Linked DNA regions of Homo sapiens: regions 1, 2 and 3 are each linked to region 4. The links come from fine-mapping of genetic effects on gene expression. A gene starts in region 4. Each other region holds a variant in brackets. All regions are shown on one strand. Distances are from middle to middle.

Region 1 (5,852 bases), 62 kb after region 4:
GCTACTCAAGAGGCTGAGGCAGGAGAATCGCTTGAACCCAGGAGGCGGAGGCTGCAGTGAGCCAAGATCACACCACTGCACTCCAGCCTGGGCGACAGAGCAAGTCTGCCACAAAAGCAAAATTAAAACAAACAAACAAACAAACAAACAAACACACACTAGAAGTCCTGGTGTAGCCGCATTGGCTGGGAGTGGACACAACCCCTCTGCTCCTGAGGCCCCTCTCACTGACTGGACAGGCCTGGGGCGGGGGTGCCCCATTGCCAAATGTGTTTGGGCGGGGACGCTGTGTTTGAGTCAGGTCAGAGTTCCTGATGACAGTATGTGACCGTCCCTTTCCTGCAGCCCTCTCCAGCCTTACCCCCTTTTCCCAGCACCTTCAGTTACATTTATTCTCCCCCGCTTCAGATCCTGGCAGCCCCCACCTCTAGCCTGAGCCCCTACTCCCACTCCTTCAGTTCCTATCCTTCCCAGCTCTTCATCTCGGCATCCCGTGTCCCTGGAAACGCAGCCCAGGCCTCGTTGCTAGGAGAATCCGGTGAGGGCTGGAGGCAAAGGTGAGGGGCACCCCTTGCAAGCATCGGGGAGGCGGCCCCGGCGTAGGTCTGCTGCACCATATGGCGCTTGGGCACAGAGAGAGGTTCTTAAACTCAGTCCAGACAAACAGTTGACAGCAAAATCAGCTCTTCAGATCTTTCAAAATATTGGGCGTGCAGGAAGCAATGTGAGAAATCCACAGAAGTGGCTTGCTGAGGCCCTGAAGCAGCACGCCGACTGATTACGAGGAAGAGAAATGGAAATGTTTCAAGATTTTTTTTTTTTTTTTCCTAAAAAGGGTTCTCAAAGAAAAGGCAAGATGAAGAACAGAAGCAGAGCTCACTGATGGTCAAGGGAAGAGACGAGCTCAATGGCTACAAAGCTGAGATCCGGTGGTAAACCCTGGACACATCTCCCTGTGGACTTGATTTTACTTTGGAATGGTTTTGTTGGTGCTGGTGGTAGGCAGTGGATAGGTGGTTGTTTTTAGGACATCGAGGCAAATCTTCCCGAAAATAAGCAGCGTGGCCAGGCACGGTGGCTCACGCCTATAATCCTAGCACTGTGGGAGGCCGAGGAGGGCAGATCGCTTGACGTCAGGAGTTCAAGACCAGCCTGGCCAACATAGTGAAACTCCCTCTGTACTAAAAATACCAAAAAAAATTAGCCAGGCATGGTGGTGCACGCCTGTAGTCCCAGCTACTCAGGAGGCTTGAACCCAGGAGGTGCAGTGCAGTGAGCTGAGATCCACTACACTCCAGCCTGGGCAATAAGAATGAGACTCCAACTCAAAAAAAGAAAAAAAAAAAAAGAAAGAAATGGAAGAGCAGTGTCTGCTTCCACCTGCTAGGAGGGCTGCGGGAACCCATGACAGCCCAGAAGCAGAGGACTGAGCCCAGGCCCGCCACCTCCCCTGCCCCCCCTGCCCCGCCACCTTCCCCCCAGCGCTGTGCCACAGAGCCCTCTGCAGGTCTCTCTCCAGCTGTGCCTGGGGCCCGCTCACATCGGTGACCCACCTATGCTATCCCACCTGTGCTGTCCTCTCTACCTGGGGTGCGCTTCCAGTCACCTGGCTGCTGCCCATACATCCTTCAAGATCCCTTTCAAACCCCACCACCTTGAGCGGACACCTCTGACTCTGCCCCTCTGCCAGGATTCTACACATATAGCCCCGTCCTCCCTCCCATGACATTCTATTAAAAATTCTGTATTTCTGCCCCTTTCCCCTCTCCAATCAGCTCCCTGTACACCTTCCAGCTCCTCTACCCTGTACCCCTCAGGAGGCAGGATCTTTCCTGCCCAAGGCCCTGGGCAGAGTCCACCTGGGTAAAACTGTCCTGCCAGAGTTAGGTGGGCAGCTTAGGCCTCCAGGCCTCAGGTCTGACTGCAGTCCTGTGGGGGTTCTGCAGAGGAAGGGACAGGTCCCGGGTCCCCACACTCTACGCGAAACCTAAAAAACATGGTGCTGCTTTTGGCCATCAGTGGGGGCTGGATTCCCAAGTTCAAGGCAATTCCCACTTCCCTGAGCCCAGACACCAACCCATCCTCATGGTCTGGAATGACAGCCTGGGAACCACAGGTGGGCGGCACAGAGCCCACTGTATCCTAGGAGAAGTCCTCAGACGCCTCCCTGACAGAGAAACCAAGGTTTCCCAAGGGAGCAGAGAGTCACCCACAGCCTCTGCAAACGCCACAGGCTGCAACACAGATGCTAAAATTACCTGAAACCCGAAGCAGATGGTGGGGAAGACACTGAACACAGAGGTCCAGGAGGCAGGGCTGTAAACAGACAAGAACAGGAGTTTATTAAAGAAGGGTCACACCCGGAACAACCTGCGGCTGCAATGGTGAATTTTAAAGGATGCTGGGAAAATGTAACAGAGCATGGCTGCAAGATGTATTTTTAATGACTGTGTCCGTGACCGGGCTTTTGGAAATGGAAAAGGATGCTGGCTAAATGCTGCACTTTCTAAATACGTCTTTGCTGACATTTGGTAACATGACATTTTACATGTGGGCAGAATTTGGGCAGGAAAACCGCAGTAGGAACTCCCAACTTCCCTCTTGAAGGCTGCTGGCTCCCAGTGCGGTTTGGTAATTGGCAGGGGCGGGGGCACCCAGAGCATCCACCCAGTGATCCCAAATAGCACAAGGATGGTTTGAGCTCTGTCCAAGCCACCTAAGAGGACAGAGGTCTGCGTGGGGAGAACCTCCAGGTCCAGCCTCTTGGGATCCCCGCCTGGTTCACAGCTTCCTTTGACAGGCTTTGCAGGTGTAATTACTGAAAGTAAGATGAAGTCATGGTGGATTAGGGTGAGCCTGAATCCAATGCCTGCT[G/A]CCCTTATTGGAAGGGAAAACAGACAGAGAGAACATGGTGTGAGGATGAAGGCCAAGACCCAGTGATCCGTCTATCAGCCAAGGAACACAGATCGCCGCGGCCCCCAGAAGCAGGAAGAGACAGGAAAGATCTGCCCCTGGAGTCTTCGGAGGGAGCATGGCCTGACCACACTTTGATCACTTGTCACAACAGCCCTCGGACACTCACATATCCTAACTCATCACCTCCTGTTTTTACCAGGGCCTCCTCATCCCCTCGACCTGCCTGTGCTAGAGTACCACCGGCTCAGTGTACAGATCTCAGCACTCACAGCCTTCAATGCCATGTCTGGGCCAACGTCAGCCACGTTTCTCCTGCCAGCCCGGACCTCTCTCTCTGAACTTCAGACACACAGACCTGCCCAGCTGCTTGACTTCCCTCTTAGATGTCTCCAGGTCGGCTCTACCTTGACTGTTCCAGCCTGAGCTGCTCCCAGGGACCCGCCCTGCTCAGTCCTCTCTAATCCAGGAAACAGCATCTCCATCCTTCCCACTGTTCAAGCTGAGAGCTCCAAGTTACCTTGACTTTCTTCTCTCTCTTACTCACCTTCCAACCCACCAGCAGCACTGACCACAGAATTCACAGGGCCAGGTGCAGGAGGAATATGCGGGGACCCTTGTTGGACAAGGATTAAGGATTTTAAGACAGTGACATCAGAAGGGTACACTGAGCATGGGGCCTGGGTGACTGTAGGGGTCGCACACCCACGAGCCAGCCCTGCCACTGGGAAATCCGATCTCAAGCATATCCAGTCTGACTATTCCTCATTGCCTCCTCTGAAGCCACCAGGTCTGGGACCCGGGATCTAGGCAGAGGCCTCCCACTTGGTCTCTGTTGCTGCCCCTGGCTCCCAAGGACCACAGAACAGAATAAAAAGGGTGAGCCTTTTTATTAATTTTTTTCTTTTTTGAGACAGAGTCTTGCTCTGTTGCCCAGGCTGGAGTGCAGTGGTATCATCTCGGCTCACTGCAACCTCTGCCACCCGGTTCAAGCAATTCTCCTGCCTCAGCCTCCTGAATAGCTGGGATTACAGATGCCCACCATCACACCTGGCTGAATTTTATATTTTTATGTAGAGACAGGGTTTCACCATGTTGGCAAGGTTGGTTTTGAACTCCTGACCTCAAGTGATCCACCTGCCTCAGCCTCCCAAAGTGCTGGGATCACAACTATGAGCCACCACACCCTACCTAGAGTGACCCTTTCTAAAAACAAATCCTGTCACATCCCTGCTGTACTCAAAACACTGCCAAGTCTCCCAACTCATCCAGAGCAAAACCAAACTCCTCGCCGTGGCTCTGAATCCCTGTACGACATCCCCGCCCATGCTCTCTGCCCTTGTTCCGGCTGGCTTGGCCACACCGGCCTCCTCACTGTTCCCCTGCCCCGGTACATGCAGCTGGATGGCTGCCAGATTCTGTACCTCCACACTGTGGGGACAAGTCTGCAATAACCTATGACCCCTAGGCCGCCGCAGCCTTTGGCGGTTCTGCGTCCCTTGGCCTGTCCCGGTCATCGCTAGCCACGGCCAGGTCCCTGCAGCAGAAGGAGAGTGGCCCTCCCTTGCCTTCACCGCATCAGAGACGGAAAGAACTGGAAGGAAGGAGCCCAGGCTCTGCAGTGAGCCACGAGAGGCTCCTCCTCCAAGACTCCCCTCACAGACTCCCCTGCCGTGCCTCCCCGCCGAGGCTGCCGGAAGCTGTTCCCTCAGACTTACCTCAGTGAAGGATGGGACTCACGCACGAGGCCCTGGGGCCAGAGGTAGTACTGCACGGTGATGACCAGGGCCAGGTAACAGGCAGCCAGAGTGCCTAGGATGCTAACACAGTGACCGTGTGAGGGGCTGCGCAGTGGGTGACATGTGCGGTTGATGCACGGGGACAGTAGTGGGATCTGAATCCCAGCTCCGCCCTTGACAATGAGGTGCTGGCCAAGCTGTCCACCTCTGCCTCACCATCCTCATCTGTACAGGGGGCATGTGGGGCAGGGCTGCTTTGGGGTCAAGGGGTCAGATGTAGAGTTTTGTTGTTGTTGTTTTGTTGTTGTTGTTGTTTTTTGAGACGGAGTCTCGCTCTGTTGCCCAGGCTGGAGTGCAGTGGCGCAATCTTGGCTCACTGCAAACTCTGCCTCCCGGGTTCAAGCAATTCTCCTGCCTCAGCCTCCCGAATAGCTGGGATTACAGGTGTCCGCCCCCACGCCTCGCTAATTTTTGTACTTTTAGTAGAGACAGGGTTTCACCGTGTTGGTCAGGCTGGTTTTGAACTGCTGACCTCGTGATCTGCCTGCCTTGGCCTCCCAAAGTGCTGGAATTACAGGTGTGACGCCCAGCCCAAATGTGTAGAATTCTTAATGGCACCCGGCGCCCTTCGGGATGGCAGCTGTAATAGTGTTTCCTTCCCACCAGCAAAAGCTAATCAGCCACTCAGCCTGATGCCTAAGGCAGGACGCCAGCAGGCTCGCTCACACTTGAGAGGGGACAAGCCGCCCCCTGGCTTGGTCTGAGTGGCACGAGAGCCTTGCAGGGCAGAGACCTGAGGGAGGCTCGGGTTTGCTGCCTGCTGTTTCTATACAATGTCTATTGTTCATACACAACAGGGAAAAGGCAGGCAGCAGAGGGAGATGGATACTGTTTCCAAGCTTTATTTCTTCCTAAGTATACAGACCCTTAGCCACAAAAAAACAACCTCTGTGTGTGTGCACACATGTGCGTGCATGGGCACGGGGACATGCGGGGATGGGGGTGCATGTGTGGGTGGGTGAGCATGGGTGGGTGTGGGTACGTGGGTGTGCATGGGTGGGTGTGGGTAGGTGGGTGTGCATGGGGGGGTGTGGGTAGGTGGGTGTGCATGGGGGGGTGTGGGTAGGTGGGTGTGTATGTGTGGGTGTGGGTAGGTGTGTGTTGTGGGGAGGCGTCTCTCTCTCTCTGCAGCCATGTGCA
Region 2 (5,852 bases), 27 kb after region 4:
CTCACTGCAACGTCCGCCTCCCAGGTTCAAGCGATTCTCCTGCCTCAGCCTCCCTAGTAGCTGGGATTACAGATGCCCACCAGCACACCCAGCTAATTTTTGTATTTTTAGTAGAGATGGGGTTTCACCATGTTGGCCAGGCTGGTCTTTAGGGTGATCCACCCGCCTCAGCCTCCAGGTGCTGGGATTGCAGGCTTGAGCCATGGAGCCCGGCCTTATTTTATTTATTGACACAGAATCTTGCTGTGTCCCCCAGGCTGGAGTACAGTGGCACCATTGTGGCTCACTGCAATCTCCAACTCAGGTTCAAGCAATTCTCCCACCTCAGCCTCCCAAGGAGCTGGGACTACAGGCATGTAGTCCCACCCACACCCAGCTATTTTTTTTTTTTTTTTTTTTGTAGAGACGGGGTCTCGCCATGTTGGCCAGGCTGTTCTCAAACTCCTGGTCTCAGCAATCCTGCTGTCTCAGTCTTCCAAAGGGCTGGGATTACAGGCAGGAGCCACCACACCCCAGCCCACTTTTGAAAATTAGAAAGCAGTTTAGGAAATGGCATATGGTTATAACTGCACTCTCGGCATCACATGCCGTAAGTGAAGTAACTGTAAAAATAAGCACCTGTCATTGTTTACGATCCAGCTTGAATCCTGAGGCTTGCCACCTCTCTGTTAAAAAGAGAGACTGGGGGGAAATCAGAGAGGTGTTGAAGACAGTAGTAGCAAGTTGAGAGTTTCTCAGGAGGACTGAAAGAGACGTGAAAGAGGAGTGTTTCTTTCTGGTCTTGTGTTAGGCCTTGTTTGTGTGCTTGGAACCATGGGAATGCATCTGGGGTCCCATCCTAGGTGGTGGCTGCTGTGTTAGGGGTGTGACCTGGTATTTAGAGAGGAGCGACATTCTCGTGGCTCAGCAGTCCCATCTCCCGGGGAACACGAGCACCCGTCCCCCCGCCCACCTCCATTTGCTGTTTCAAATTGAGAAAAACCCTTCTTTGCTCAGTTCTTCCCAGAACAGCTGATGTGCTTGACACAGAAGAAAAAGAGAAAATGCAAACAGATGAGGGAAACAGCCAGGTGTCGGCACCCAAGCTCGATTGAGCCCTTAATTTTCCAGGCAGAGAGGTACCTCAGGACCAGGATATTGGTTTGCTGGGGGACTGGGGTTTGATCGTGTGTTTCTTCGTAGTTGAAGAGCTGGTCCTGATCAGACATGATTGTGAAGGTAACTCTGAGACACTGTTTCCCAAATGAGTTTGATCTGAGCATTTGCGCTGAATCACCTGGGAAAATTAAAATACACATTCCTGGGCTCCTGGCCATACTCACTGGCTAGAATCCCTGGACTGGAGCCCAGAACTCTGCACATGTGGTCAGTCTTGTGATTCTTGGGTGCCCCAGAATTAGCAGCCATCGCTGTGAAAAAAGCTGACACTTAGATTTCCTGGGTTTTCCTGTTACTATCTTGATGAAAAACTTGCTGTTTTTCTCCTGCCGCAGAACAGATAGTATGGCTGCGCAGTTTTCAGGGCAGACTTCCCACACTGGGTCAGCTCCATCACGCGTCAGCAGTTACACCCACCTGCCCCCATGGTGGGGACCTTACTTGGGGATGTTGTCAGACGGGGCAGCTTGTCGTGATACCTCTGTTCCACACATGCCCCTCCCTCGAACTTCCCCAAATCTCAGCTAGTTTGGCTCTAGGCTGTGGGTCCCTGAGGACTATCCTGTTTCCCAGCCCCAGGACAGTCTCCCAGGATGTCACCTCTAGCACAGGCTACTGGCTCAGACCCCACCACCCGGGAGCCCTGAGCAACCCGTCATGGTCTGAGGGATACATTTAATTTCCTGCTGGTTTATAGAGAAGCCATGATTGACACCATAAAGACTCTGCCAGCCTCTCCCCTCCCAAGGCGGGAGTCGAGTTTGCTCCCTCCGCAAGGGGGAGAGCCTGGCGGAGTGTTCAAGGTTCACAAGAGACAAATTCCAGAATGCACCAAGACCGCGATGCACAGAGACCAAGCGGGTGTTGGGGCCGTGCACAGGGCACTCTGTGTGTCTTCTGGGGGAGTGTCTGTGTTTCTGTATGTCTGCCAGGAGCTTTTCAGCATCCTTTTGCATGGGAGGATTTGGTCATTCATTGAGCATTTTTGAGTCCCTACTATGTGCTGGACACAGTGCAAGGTGAGCTGTGTGTGTGTGTGTGTGTGTGTGTGTGTGTGTGTGTGTGTGTGTGTGTCTGCCTCTGCCTGTGGCTAGCTGTGCCTGTCAGGGCACGCAGGGGTGTGTATGCACATGAGTATGCACAGGAGAGGGGTGTCCAGGGCCGGGAGATGGGGCCAGGCCCAGGTCAGGATCACAGTTTCTGTCCTGTTACATCCCGACTGTCAGTGTCTCTTTAGGTCTCGCTTTTATGTGTATGTGTTGGAGGGGGGTCTTGAAACCAGGTCCCCCACCCCAGAGGGCACCAAACATTAAATGGGCCTATCATGAGGGAGGGAGGGGGACTTGGTCACTCCACAGCTTGGGCTCTACACGTGCCCGAAAGCTTCGAGCTGTTAGAGTGGGGGTGGGTCCCTGGCTCAGCCTCACTCTGGAACTGAATCTCTTGGGGAAAAGGCCTAGGCCGTGGGGTCCTAGAATGGAGCTGAATTCGAATCCCAGCTCTGCCCAGCTAGCTGCGTGGCCCTGGCTGAGTCACCTGCTTTAAGAACCTCATTTCCTCCTCTGTCAAAACAAAGGCCATGATGCAAGTTCTGTGCATGTGTGAGTCCACTGTCTTGCGTAATAAATGCCTGT[G/T]GAAGATGCTGGAAGTGGTAAGGGCCCTGAAGCCACCGCCATGGTCTGTGTGTGTTCCCATCCAAACTGCAGACAGAACCACATCAAACCCAGCCACAGCGCGGCACAGACCTGGTGTGGAAGCCCCACTCCCGCCTCTGCCCCCAACCACAAGCTCATGGCTATGGAACAAGGCAAGACCCTTCCATCTGGTGAGAGAAAGCGGGGGCCCTGGTGGGGGTACCAGCTGGGGGTCCCGAGGAGTTCTGAGAGTCCTCTGACAGGGACTGGGGAGATGAGCAAGTTTGATGCCCCTGGAGGGGCTGGATGTTTCCAGCTTCCCCCCGAAGCCCTCGTCCTGCCCACCACTGAAGTCTGTGTGTCTCTTTCTCTACCGCAGCCACGGAGGATGCAAAGGAAGAGGGTCTGGAAGCCCAGATCAGCCGCTTGGCAGAGCTGATTGGGAGGCTGGAGAGCAAAGTAAGCCCTGGCCTGACCACGGCGTCTACTCCTTCCAACCCCTGAGGGAGTGCAGAGTTAAGCCTGGAGTTCAGGACAAAAGTCTGGGCTGCAGAGGGGCCAGGGAACCATGAAAAAGACATCCCCCAGGTGGGGCGTGGAGCTGCCGAGGACGAAGCTAAGGATCAAACCCCGGGGGATGCTCGTGTTGTTCAGGCCCAAGGAGGGGCGCCTGGGAAGAGAGAGTGTTGGGGGGTCAGGCGGGCCTGCAGGCAGCAGGAGCAGCTCCAGGAGCAGAGGGTGGTCAGCAGGGTCCCGTGTTGCAAGGCCCTAGCTTCAAGGAGACTTTGCTCTGAAGTGGCTGGAGCAGATATTGGCCGAAAGGCAGCACCAGGATGAAAGAGAGACGTGATGATTCGAGAGAGTTTCAAAACAAGGAAGGAAGTGACCAGCAGTAGCAAATGTATTAAGTGTGATATGGGACGTCCACAGGTGATAGAAAATGGCACAGCCCTTACAGAAAACATTTTCAGATAATGTTTCGTGACTCGGGATAGAGTGCTCACAATATGACCATTTGGTGGAAAGAAAAGTTTGTCTTAGGGCCTACAGACAGATGGGCTCAGGTATCAGTCAGAATTCTGGTTGTGCCACTTCATAGCTGTGTGACCCTGGGCCAGGGACTTGTCCTCTCTGAGGCTTAGATTCCTCCTCTGATAATCAAGAAAATAACCTGGAGCATGGGACCCCTCCCTCATAGGGGTGTCGTTAGGATGAACCAAAATGATGTCTCCGGTTTAGCACAGGGCCCGGTGCTGTAGCTTGCATTTAATATTAGCAATGTTAGCAATTATTATGAGGCATTCTGTTACCCAAACCTATCCACATGCACACAGCACACCCGTATACCCACATAAGCCAAGGTAACTGAGCTCTCAGAACCCTGGGATTGAGGTGGTTTTATGTTTCTCCTACTTTTGTGTATTTTTTTTACACCCTTTGTAAAGGGTATTGCTACTTTTAGTTTGGGGGTTCTCAGGCATTCATGGGGGCAGGAACAAGGGGCTCCCCGCATGGAGGGAGACAGAGGCTGACGTGGAATGAAGTCCGAGGGAGGAAGCTCAAACTTCCCCTCCTGCAGGGATGAGGCTGAGGTGGAGTTACCCCCTTCCTGAAGCCAGCTGCGGGAGCGGCTCGGAGGGGACCCCGTGGCCCGGTTGTCATAACAACTCAGCGGGCGCCTCGGGAGGGAGACTCTGAAGCTTATTTTTAGAGCACCGTCGCCCTAACAACCAGGCTGGCTGGTAACCACGGAGTACCTGGGCGTCCTGGAGACGGGGTGGGACCAGGTCCTCCTCCCCAGCCTCTAACTGGCCCGGGCGGTCAGCAGGGGCCAATCCGGGCCTGGCTTCAGGCCCCGCCCTTCACCGGCCAACCGGAGCTGCCTCTGGGCTGGAAGGATGGAGGCTCTAGGGGCCCCTGGCTGGGAGAAGAATGGGGCAGATACAGGGGCCACAGTGCCTCTCCTCATCCTCCTATGGCTTTTCCAGCCCCAGGACCCCTCACGTATGCTTGTAAAACCATGGAAACAGACTTGTTCCTGCCAGGCACACCTTCACCACTTACCAAGGCGTGTTCATGCTGTGTGCCCCCAGAAGGCAGTACCCTTGCCAGGATCAGCTACTACAGAGCCCAGTGCAAAATGAGCGTGCAAGGTCCCTTGCTCAAACATTTAGAACGTCACGGTGGTGACTACACAGACTCATCCACCTGCTGCTGTTTTCCTTATTAGCTGGCGTGCTTTACCTGTGGCTGCCCTGTGTGACTCCCGTAGATGGTCTGTCCTCATGGAGGATGGACAGAGATAGCCACAGAGGTGGTTAGTGGGGTGCCCAAGCTGAAGGAAGCAGCAGCATGAGCCTGTGCGTCAGGTAGACACACTGGGTTCAGACCCACGCTCTGACACTTACATGGCTTTCGTGCCTTCAGAGCCGGGGTTCTCTGCCGTGACATAGTGACTGTTGATCTTCTGTGGGGGCTCAGCCCTGTGTGGGCACCAGTCGTGGGCGAACAGAGCAGATGTGGTTCCTGGAGACCGAAACTTACAGTGGGGCAGCACCTTCCCTGGGGAGTCTGGAAGATTGTGTATTTGTAAACCATCTAGCTTAGAGTCTGGGGAAGACCAGAGAGAACAGTTCACCCCATTAGATCCCTGAGGTGCTGGGGGTTATGATTTGGGGTGAATTATAAGTTACAGGGAATCTAAGGGCTGTTGCTCATCATAGTGGCAAACCCCAGCATCTTGGACTCAGGCCTCTGGAGTCCCCCTTGCTGCCTCTCCCAAGCCATCCTCACCCCAGCAACATGTTCTAGGCCCCCTGTAGGCCAGAGGGAGTCTCTGCCACTTCCTAGCGTTGGTCTCCCAGCCCTGTGCAACAGGGCCGGGTCCTTGGGAGCTCCCAACAGCCCCAGGGATCCCAGAGCTCCTGGCTCCCCGGGGCGGAGTGGGGCTCTGGGTCTAGCATCACTGTGTGCTGGATTGTTTCAGGCACTGTGGTTCGACCTGCAGCAGCGCCTGTCAGATGAAGATGGCACCAACATGGTGAGGCCCCTTCCCACCTC
Region 3 (4,000 bases), 100 kb after region 4:
TGAATGACAGGACACCACCACGGCAGAAACAGTGTCACCAGGTACATGTCTCAGGTTACTGACACCTAACAGTCTGGTTTGTGCCACCCTGTACCACTTTAAAAGGGACTAAAAAGTAGAGGACCAGGATCCAGCAATACACAGCGACTAACTGTGATCTGATTTCACTTGTGGTGCTCAGGATAAAGATTTTCATTCACTTGAGAAGGAGCAAAATATATAGCAGAGCTGCTTTTAACTTAAAGAAAAAAGAGTACGAATGTCCCTGTCTCCAATCAGCCTGTCTTGTATTTCAGCTGAATGTCACACCGCCACCACCTGTTTCAGAGCCTCGCCCCAGGCTCACCCAGCTGTGGGGCCCACGGCGCATACTCCCTTGGTAGCTATCACTGAAAACTGGGATTCACTCCTCAGACATTTAACAAACATCCAAAGTGGGCGGAAAGACCATCTGGCTAGCACAGCAGTGCCACTTACCATACTGACTGGCATCAAAACACGTGAAGGGGGCCCCGAGGACCTCTACAAAGTAGCCCATGCTTCTCAGATGCTGGTACATATCCCTGAAATTGGTGTGGATGTGATCACCATTCCTGAAAAACAATAGGCCACAGCATTAAAATGATCGATCTTTACTGGCAATAAAGGCATATCTGGCCACAGGGCCGGCTCTGCAAGAGCACCATGCCATGGCCCACAGAGAAGGCCTGGATGGCTGGCCCACTGGCACAGGCATCAGCTTAGGAGACCTGTGTGCTCTGGTCTGGACACACGGAAATGGCTGATAAGAAGAAACCATGTGCCTGGCAGGTGCATGAAAGAGACAAAATGACCAGAAGAAATGGCCAAAGACATGTTTAATGTGTCCTGGACCATCACTGTAGCAGTCGCGTTCAAGTAAATTGCTGGCAACCATCTGTGTCTGACAGAAGAGCTTAGCAAATAGCCGCGGGAGTGCAGGGACGCTGGAACAAGCCACGCAGGGCCACGGTGCTAAGACAGCGGCACAGCTAACTGATATCACTGCCACTGGTCAACTTTCCATCCCCGTCCCTCCCAAATGAGCTCACTTTCCTATGGGACACTGTATACACCCTCTAGGGGTCACCTCATTCTCACCTCCCAGCAGCACAGACTCCAGGTCCTCTCCTGCAGGCCAACGGGCTTGCCTTGGTCTATGAACTTCCCACCACTTCCTGTCTACCCGTCTCTGGTCTGAGCCCCTCCAATCTGGCTGCCAGAGACATCTTATTTTAAAAGGCAAGTCTGACTCTGTAACTATCCTGGTCACATCTTTCAATGCTTCCCCTTCCCCTACTTTCAGCATGGAGTTCAAACGTAGTCCAAACATAAAAGCAGAAATGAGCTTGGCTAATGCACCAAGAGAAAGTCAGCCCAGCTGCCCTGCAGGGAACAGGCACAGGGAGAGCGGCTATGGGGACTGCGGGGGAAGCAGTGCCAGCTTCTGAAGGGCTGCATGGGTCACACCAGGGGGCTTGGCCGGGTGAGGAAGTCAGAATAGGCAGTCACTGGAGAGCTTGAGGCAAACTGTGTTAGAATTTGTTTTAAGATTACCAAGGTTGCCAGAAGAGGAGTGGAATTTAGGGCAACAACAGCAACAGCAGTGGCACTCAGGAGCTGCTGATGTGGTCCAGGCAAGAGATGACAATGGCATGGACTAGGGTGGGAGCAGGGAGAAGGCCAGAGATGGAAGGATCCAGGATGCAGTTTGAGGGTAAGACTGACAGCTTTGCTGACTGGCGCAATGGGAGAAGGAAGGAAAAGAGAACTTCAAGCTTTTTACTGCATAATCATACTTGTGAAAGTTTCAAAAG[A/G]GAAGTCAGGCTGCCCTAAGTGCATGGCAAAAGCCTGAACATCTCAGCGTCATCAGAGTCCAGGCTCCACGAGAAGCTGAGCAACATCTTTCCAAGAGTTGCGGGAACAGTGGTGCCTCCTCCCACCACGGAGGCTGGGGAGGTGAAGTGCATCCTGTGAGGTGCTTACCAGTCTAAAGGGTCATTCTTCATCCTTAAATTATCCCTGGGGAAATAGCCAGGTGGATAGCGGAGGTTGTGGTACTGATCCCAGAGAACTCTCTTGCTTCGCGGGGGAGTAGGAATTATCTTCACCTTAATGGGGAGCTTTACTGTTGAAGTCTGTTCTGCACCATTTTTTGACTAAAAAAAAAGAAAAGAAACTTGAAACGCCCTCATTGTGCAGAAAGAAACTTTCAGGTTTGAAAACATCATTTCTATTTATCAACTTAACCTAAATAATTTGAACACAAGAATTTCCAATAACAAATGTCTGATGAAAGATTCATGTATCATAACTAAGTCCATTCAAACACTTAAAGAGTTTAACAGTTAAAATTTAAGGCATATTCTATCAATAAAAACTACTAGAGCCTCATAGGATTAACCCTACATTTCCTTTTAGAGAATGTATATTTTTGGTGCACTCCTTTTGAGCTTGAAATCTGGTAGAAAACAGTCTTCTCTGCTGTTGTGTGGCCACAGAACGGCAAGCCCTAGCACTCACTGACTGAGCTACTTCTTCAAACTCCAGCTGCTCCGGAGGCCCTGGAACCATCAATTGTGGCCATCGAGGATAAGCCTATCTGTCAACTGTACTTCCAATGGAGACCCCAGGCATTTGGCCTGTCCCTCCCTGAAAGGTGATGTCAAACAGCTAAGAAAACAAGCCACTTTCCCGCATATCCCTACCTCTGTCTCTGCTGGGGAAGCCACAGTGATCATGACATGGCCCTGAGCAATGCCTTCCCAGGAAGCCGCTTTCTTGGTCACAGAAATGGAGATGGCCAGGTAGCCCGACCAAGGCCATAAGACCGAGGAGTAGGAGAAGGCAACTTCAATGTTGTCTCCGTTCTGTGGCAAATAGGGCTGCCAGTCAGGCTGCAGGAAAAAGAAATCAGACAAAGGCTAAAGTGAAAAGCTCCAGGAGAAAACACGTGGAAACCAGAAAAACTCAATTCTTACCAAAACTGGTTCCGAGAAATACTTCACTAAATAGGGAAAAATAAAATTTATACACAGATACTAAGTAACTACAACCAAAGTAGCCTATGGACTGCCTCGGACGTATCACTAGAAAAGTCTAGAAACCACTATTTCTGACAGCTTCCAATTTTATGGAGACATTTTTTTTCTATTATAAAACAGGAACTTTTGTCAAAAGTTCTTTGATGAAAAACTTCATCTGACTAAGAGAACTTATATAGATGAAAACTCTCAGATTTAAGGTTATTTCCCAATTAGTTGTATGCTTTAAAAAAATCCCATTAATTGAAAGCAGTAACATGACAGGGACACCAGCTGTCCCGAGTCACATTCTGAAGCTGGAAAGAGGTGGCCGGAGGGAGGACTGGCTCAGCTGCGAGATGACCACCCTTCTACCCTCCAGGTGGGAGAAAAGCAGAAAGGGAAGCGTGAGCAGAGGCCATCTGGAAGAGACGTCAATGAGAGCTTGCAACTAACCGGTATTTCAGACGAATCTAAATTACTCATTTCCCTCCACAATCCACACAGCCAGAACTTACTTCCCAAGTAAGCCAGTGGGTTAAGAAAAAAGTATGAAAAAGAAAAATATCTGTAGGATACGGTGTCCCAAATAATGAGGAAGAAAAGGGATTTTTAAAGAATGCTCTTGGAGCCACTGGTTCCCAAGTGAAAAACTTTCGCCCATCTCTTGTAACACATCAAATTAACACAGATGAAACAATTAAATATTTAACAATCATATACATAAAAATTAGTAGAAAAATAAAATGGAAATTTTATTATCTCTCTGGAATGATGTTTCCATCTGCAAAACAATAAAAGTCACAAAACATAAAAATTCAACTACATGAAATGTAAAACTTTTACAGAAGGAAAAAAATCCCCACCACAGTAAGTAATATTAAAGGGAAAAGAGCATCACCTGGAGGAACATTTTGCTGAACACACAGCAATGGTGAATTTCTCTATGACAGGGCGAT
Region 4 (5,852 bases):
ACACCACCTCTCCTGAGGGAGGCACCCTTGTTAGCTCCATTTTACAGAAGAGGAGACTGAGGCTTAGAGAGGTTGAATTACCTGGCCTAGTCCTACAGCTACAGCCTAGTCCAGCTCCAGGGCCTGACACTGCCCTGGACATCTCCCGTCCCACCCAGCCCCCCAACCCCTAACAGTGTCTGACTCTGGCGTCCTGCATCCTCCCCAACAGAGGTCTTCGCAACAGCCGGGCCACTGCCGGGGACATCGCCCACTACTACAGGGACTACGTGGTCAAGAAGGGTCTGGGGCATAACTTTGTGTCCGGTGCTGTAGTCACAGCCGTGGAGTGGGGGACCCCCGATCCCAGCAGCTGTGGGGCCCAGGACTCCAGCCCCCTCTTCCAGGTGAGCGGCTTCCTGACCAGGAACCAGGCCCAGCAGCCCTTCTCGCTGTGGGCCCGCAACGTGGTCCTCGCCACAGGCACGTTCGACAGCCCGGCCCGGCTGGGCATCCCCGGGGAGGCCCTGCCCTTCATCCACCATGAGCTGTCTGCCCTGGAGGCCGCCACAAGGGTGGGTGCGGTGACCCCGGCCTCAGACCCTGTCCTCATCATTGGCGCGGGGCTGTCAGCGGCCGACGCGGTCCTCTACGCCCGCCACTACAACATCCCGGTGATCCATGCCTTCCGCCGGGCCGTGGACGACCCTGGCCTGGTGTTCAACCAGCTGCCCAAGATGCTGTACCCCGAGTACCACAAGGTGCACCAGATGATGCGGGAGCAGTCCATCCTGTCGCCCAGCCCCTATGAGGGTTACCGCAGCCTCCCCAGGCACCAGCTGCTGTGCTTCAAGGAAGACTGCCAGGCCGTGTTCCAGGACCTCGAGGGTGTCGAGAAGGTGTTTGGGGTCTCCCTGGTGCTGGTCCTCATCGGCTCCCACCCCGACCTCTCCTTCCTGCCTGGGGCAGGGGCTGACTTTGCAGTGGATCCTGACCAGCCGCTGAGCGCCAAGAGGAACCCCATTGACGTGGACCCCTTCACCTACCAGAGCACCCGCCAGGAGGGCCTGTACGCCATGGGGCCGCTGGCCGGGGACAACTTCGTGAGGTTTGTGCAGGGGGGCGCCTTGGCTGTGGCCAGCTCCCTGCTAAGGAAGGAGACCAGGAAGCCACCCTAACACTCGGCCAGACCCGCTGGCTCCCAGGCCCTGAGAGGACAGAGATGACCACATCCCTGCTGGATGCAGGACCCGTCCAAAGATGCCCCGGGGAGGGGTGTCAGCCCACGTTGCTGGCCTTTGGGGTCAAGAGGAGTAGGGATCCCAGGCTGCCCTGGACTTAGACCAGTGTCTGAGGTGGTAACAGCGGCCGCAGGCCAGGGTTGGCCTAGACCTGGGATTTGTGGGGAAAGCTGCTGGTGTGACCAGCTGAGCACCCAGCCAGGAGACCTGCAGCCCTGCGCCTTCCAGAAGCAGGTCCCAAATAAAGCCAGTGCCCACCTGCTCTCATGCGTCTGAGGACTCTGTGCTCGGAGGGAGCTGCGTTCCCGGAACCCTGCACTGGGCTGGGGGGAAGGGAGGAAAGGGGATTGTGGGAGGAGTCCTGGGGCATGTGGTCCTGGATGAGGTCCATGGCTGGGGCCTTGGGGTACAAAGGATGGTGCCCCAAGTGTGGGGGCAGTTGAGCGGGCAGCTGTACTAGAGTCTGGGGGTGGGAGTGGCGGGTGTGTGCAGGCAGTGATGTCCAGGAGGGCGCTGCAGCCCCGCCCCCTCCGCAGCCTGTCCCAGGCCTCCCTCCTCTCTGTTCTGCCATGCGGCCTCCTTTCAGTCCCTCCTGCTGGCCAGGTCTCTGCCTGCCCCAAGGCCTTTGCACAGAGAGTCCCCAGCCCAGGACAGTTTCCCGCCTTTCTTTAACTCCTTTTCCTTGGGATGTCTCAGCATAAGAATCACTTCCTCTAGGAAGCCTCTTCTGACACAAACCCCTCCACTGCCGTCACAGCAAATACTCCTTTCATGGTCTAAGGTGCTACCTTTTCATAGCAGTGCAGTTTTTTTTTCTTTTTTTTGAGACAGAGTCTCATTTTGTCACCCAGGCTGGAGTGCTGTGGCGCTTGGTTCACTACAACCTCTGCTTCTGGGTTGAAATGATTCTCCTGTCTCAGCCTCCCAAGTAGCTGGGATTACAGGTGACTGCCACCTCGCCCAGCTAGTTATTGTATTTTTAATAGAGACGGGGTTTCACCATGTTGGCCAGGCTGGTCTTGAACTCCTGACCTCAAGTGATCCGCCCTCTTTGGCTCCCCAAAGTGTTGGTATCACAGGCATGAGCCACCACACCCTTCCAGCAGTTCAGTTTTAATTGTTCATTTGTTTGTGGAATCATTTCAGTGTTTGGCTCTGCCCACTTGGATGTAAGCTCCAGGAGCTCTGGGAGACCAAGTACACCATCTGTTTTGCCCATTGCTGGAACTCCGTGGTTGGGCACCTGCCTGGCACCTAGTGGGTTCTCCTTAATTCATCTTTTAAATGGATGGGTGGATGGATGGATGGGAGGATGGGTGGGTGGGTGGACAGATGGATAGATGAGAGGATGGTTGGATGGATGGGAGGATGGTGGGTGGGTGGATGGATGGATGGATGGATGGGAGGGAGGGGGGTGGGTGGGTGGGTGGATGGATGGGAGGGAGGATGGATGGATGGATGGGAGGGAGGGAGGATAGATGGATGGATGGAAGGATGGTGGGTGGATGGATGGGAGGGTGTGTAGGTGGGTGGATGGATGGATGGATGAGAGGGTAGGGGGGTGGATAGATGGATAGATGGGAGGGTGGGTGGGTGGATGGACAGACAGATGGGCGGGCGGGCAGATGGATGGACGGATGGATGGATGGATGGATGGATGGATGGATGGATGGATGGGAGGGTGGATGGATGGATGGATGGAGGGTGGATGGATGGATGCCAGGGAGGGAGGATGAGTGGGTGGGTGAATGGATGGATGGATGGGAGGATGCTGGGTGGGTGGATGGATGGATGGATGAATGGTTGGGAGGGTGGGTGGATGGATGGACGGACAGTCGGCCGGCCGGATGGATGGATGGGAGGATGGGTGGATGGATGTATAGATGGATTGATGGACGGGTAGGCAGGTGGATGGATGGATGGATGGATGGACGGACAGGTGGGTGGGTGGATAGATGGATGGGTGGATGGAGTATGAAGGAAAGATGTTCTGGGGTGAAGACTGGTTCTGGGCGTTTTGTAACCAAGGGGGCGGCCTGAGGGGGCGTGCACGCCCGCGGGAGTTAAGGATGGGCGCCCGCGGGCGTGACGGGGCCGCGGGGCGTGGGCGCCGCTCCCCGGGGCTGGAGCCGGCAGAGGGCGCTCCGGGCTCGCTGGACACCCGCGCTTCGGCCTCTGCTGCGCGCCGCGAGTGGGAGGGGGGACTTTAGAAGCGGGGAGAGCAGGAGACTTTTGGGGAGCAGGCCCCAGGGGCGCCGCCCCGCCCCCAGGCCCCACATACCCCTCCCCTCCGGGTAGCCCCCTCTGTGGCTGCGCCCGCGCCCCTCGCCCCGGCGGGCAGTCCTCAGGCCCCGCGCCCGGCCGGCGGGGGTGGGGGCGGCGGGGAGCGGGCACGTGGCTCGGGGTCCGGCCGGCCCGCCCCCCGGCGCCGGCCAGTCCCCGCGGTGTCCGCGGCCGCGGGGGCAGCGGGAGAGAGGGCGGGGCGGCGCGGGCAGCGCGGGGAGGGGGTCGCGCGGGGGCGGGCCGCAGCTGGGCGGGGGTCGGCGGGCTTCCGGGCGGCGGCGGCGGGCGCGGCGCGATGTGCGAGCGGGCGGCGCGCCTGTGCAGGGCCGGCGCGCACAGGCTGCTCCGGGAGCCGCCGCAGCAGGGCCGGGCGCTGGGCGGGCTGCTGCGCTGGGTGGGCGCCAGGATGGGCGAGCCCCGGGAGTCGCTGGCCCCCGCCGCCCCCGCGGACCCCGGCCCAGCCTCGCCGCGCGGGGGCACCGCCGTCATCCTGGACGTGAGTACGCGCCGGCCGGGACCCCCGCCGTGGCCTCCGCTGGGACCCGGAGCCCCCTCCGCCCCTCGGGCGGACCCCGACGCCGCGACCCGCGAGGCCCTCCCTACCCGGGCAGGAGACCCCCGGCCCCTCCGCGTGCCGGAGCGGGAGCCCCCAGCCCCGCCACGTCCAGGCCGGTCTCCAGCCCAGTCCTCTCCCTGGACCGGGAGACCCCCCTCCTCCGCCCCTCCACCGGCGCTTCTCGGAGTCCCTGCCTGCCCACAGTGGGGAGCCGTGAGCCCCCGGACCCGGCCACTGTCCCCCTAGTTTTGTCCAAGCCAAACCCCCACCCTTTACCCCGCGGGACCGGAGCCCCTCGCCGCGTCCAGCCGCCTCCTCCTCTCCATCCCGGATCCTGTCCGGAGCGATACTTTTCTGAGACCCCTAACAACCCCTACCTCTAGCCCACCTCTCTTCGCCCTAGACCCTGAGCCCCCGTTCATCTCACGCTCAAAGACCCTTTGCCCCAGCTACTGCCACTTTAAAAGTGAAGCCCCCTCCCCACCTTCTGTCTTCTCGTCTCCTTTCCATTGAGCCAGAGCCATCGCCCATCAGCCCTGAGCTGGTACCCCTCTGGTCTTCCCCACCCCGCCCCCTTCCATTCCAAGTCCTCTGTTCCCTTCCCCACACCCCTCTACCCTACAGAGAGCTGGGTCCTCTTCATGGACCAGACTCACCCCTCACCCCTCCTAACTCCCCTGGGACCCAAATCACCCATCTCTGGGAAGCCCACCTCACCCTCCCACCCGCCCCACCCGGGAGGGAGGAATCTTCAGGGGGCGGCTCGGAGGAGGAGGACTTCTCCCAGCAGAGAGTGCTAGGAGGAGGTGGAGGAGGCTTCTGGGGATGTTGACTGCGTGTTTCAGCGAGGGTCCTGCTGGGGTGGGGCTGGGGGCTGCCTCTGCCTGTGTGGTGGATTTCTGGGAGAGTGGTGGGTGTGTGTGAATGTGCACACGCGTGTATCGCGGATCCCTGTGAGTCGGGGGATTCCCTCCCTTCCTCTCTCCTCTTCCCTGCTCCTGGAACCCTTGGCCGGGGTCTGGGCTGGGAGGGCCGGCCAGAGCAGGGGGAGCTCTAGAGTGCCACACTCGCAGGCACACATTCACACACTCACGCACTCGCTTACGCACGCACACACAGCCAGAGACACACCCATGCAGCCAAACCATCCCCTCCTCAGGACCCCCGCAGAGCTCCCACTGAAAGTCCTGGGCAGAGCCCTGCAGCCCCAAGCTGCCCTGCATGGAAGCCCTGCCCAGTCAGGGTGGGGGCTCTGAGGTTCCATCTCCTCACCTGCCAAAAGGAGTGATGAGCGGGGGGTGGGGCGGGAGGTGCTCATGCAGACTCCTGGAGCTGGCTGACATTACCAGGTGTCAGCCCTGCCATGTCACTCATGTGTTCAGCATTCCTGCCCAGAGCCGGCACCTACCTGGTGCCTGGCCTCAAGGGGGATCTGGGACACCCAGATAGGGACCCCAGTTTTGAGGAGCCTTGCCCAGTCAGGAACGGGGCTGCGGGGTGCCCAGGCTGGATCTTTGAGGAGGGCTTGGGGATCTGAGGTTCAGCCAGGAGGAGGGGTGATGTTTGAGAGGCCCTCCCATAGCTGTGCTTCAGTCTCACCGCCCAGGTGCCTAGAAATGACCAAGGGTGCCCCCTTTCTCGTTGCCTGGAGGGATGGGGGGCGAGGGCATCTGTCCTTTACCCCAAGGCGAGGACAGAGGGTGGAAGGGTCAGAGTGAGTATTACCTCCTCCTCCTCCATGGCTGACCTGGCCCCAGCAGCCCTCCCTGGTGTCGGGAAATGTGTACATGTTG

What was found.
Region 1: its variant is fine-mapped to the expression of NECAB2 in whole blood (TOPMed, PIP above 0.99).
Region 2: its variant is fine-mapped to the expression of NECAB2 in whole blood (TOPMed, PIP above 0.99).
Region 3: its variant is fine-mapped to the expression of NECAB2 in whole blood (INTERVAL, PIP above 0.99).

Annotation. Positions count from the first base shown.
Region 1 is chr16:84,027,236-84,033,087 of GRCh38, forward strand. SLC38A8 (solute carrier family 38 member 8) reads right to left here. Exons shown (of 11, transcript NM_001080442.3): 5 at 4,632-4,733; 6 at 2,259-2,316. Among named protein-coding and RNA genes, the nearest start is that of SLC38A8, 13 kb to the right of the region's middle. RefSeq lists enhancers at 1-390, 5,740-5,852. The variant G/A (reference allele first, on the strand shown) is at 2,875.
Region 2 is chr16:83,991,438-83,997,289 of GRCh38, forward strand. NECAB2 (N-terminal EF-hand calcium binding protein 2) reads left to right here. Exons shown (of 13, transcript NM_019065.3): 7 at 2,865-2,983; 8 at 3,172-3,251; 9 at 5,779-5,832. Among named protein-coding and RNA genes, the nearest start is that of NECAB2, 26 kb to the left of the region's middle. RefSeq lists a silencer at 4,549-4,608. The variant G/T (reference allele first, on the strand shown) is at 2,793.
Region 3 is chr16:84,067,862-84,071,861 of GRCh38, forward strand. It overlaps MBTPS1 (membrane bound transcription factor peptidase, site 1), which reads right to left. Exons shown (of 23, transcript NM_003791.4): 13 at 2,727-2,915; 14 at 2,005-2,177; 15 at 478-593. Among named protein-coding and RNA genes, the nearest start is that of SLC38A8, 27 kb to the left of the region's middle. The variant A/G (reference allele first, on the strand shown) is at 1,836.
Region 4 is chr16:83,964,851-83,970,702 of GRCh38, forward strand. It overlaps NECAB2 (N-terminal EF-hand calcium binding protein 2), which reads left to right and starts at 3,394. Exons shown (of 13, transcript NM_019065.3): 1 at 3,394-3,999. The coding sequence starts at 3,799. OSGIN1 (oxidative stress induced growth inhibitor 1) reads left to right here. Exons shown (of 6, transcript NM_182981.3): 6 at 212-1,482. The coding sequence ends at 1,157. RefSeq lists a silencer at 3,270-3,459.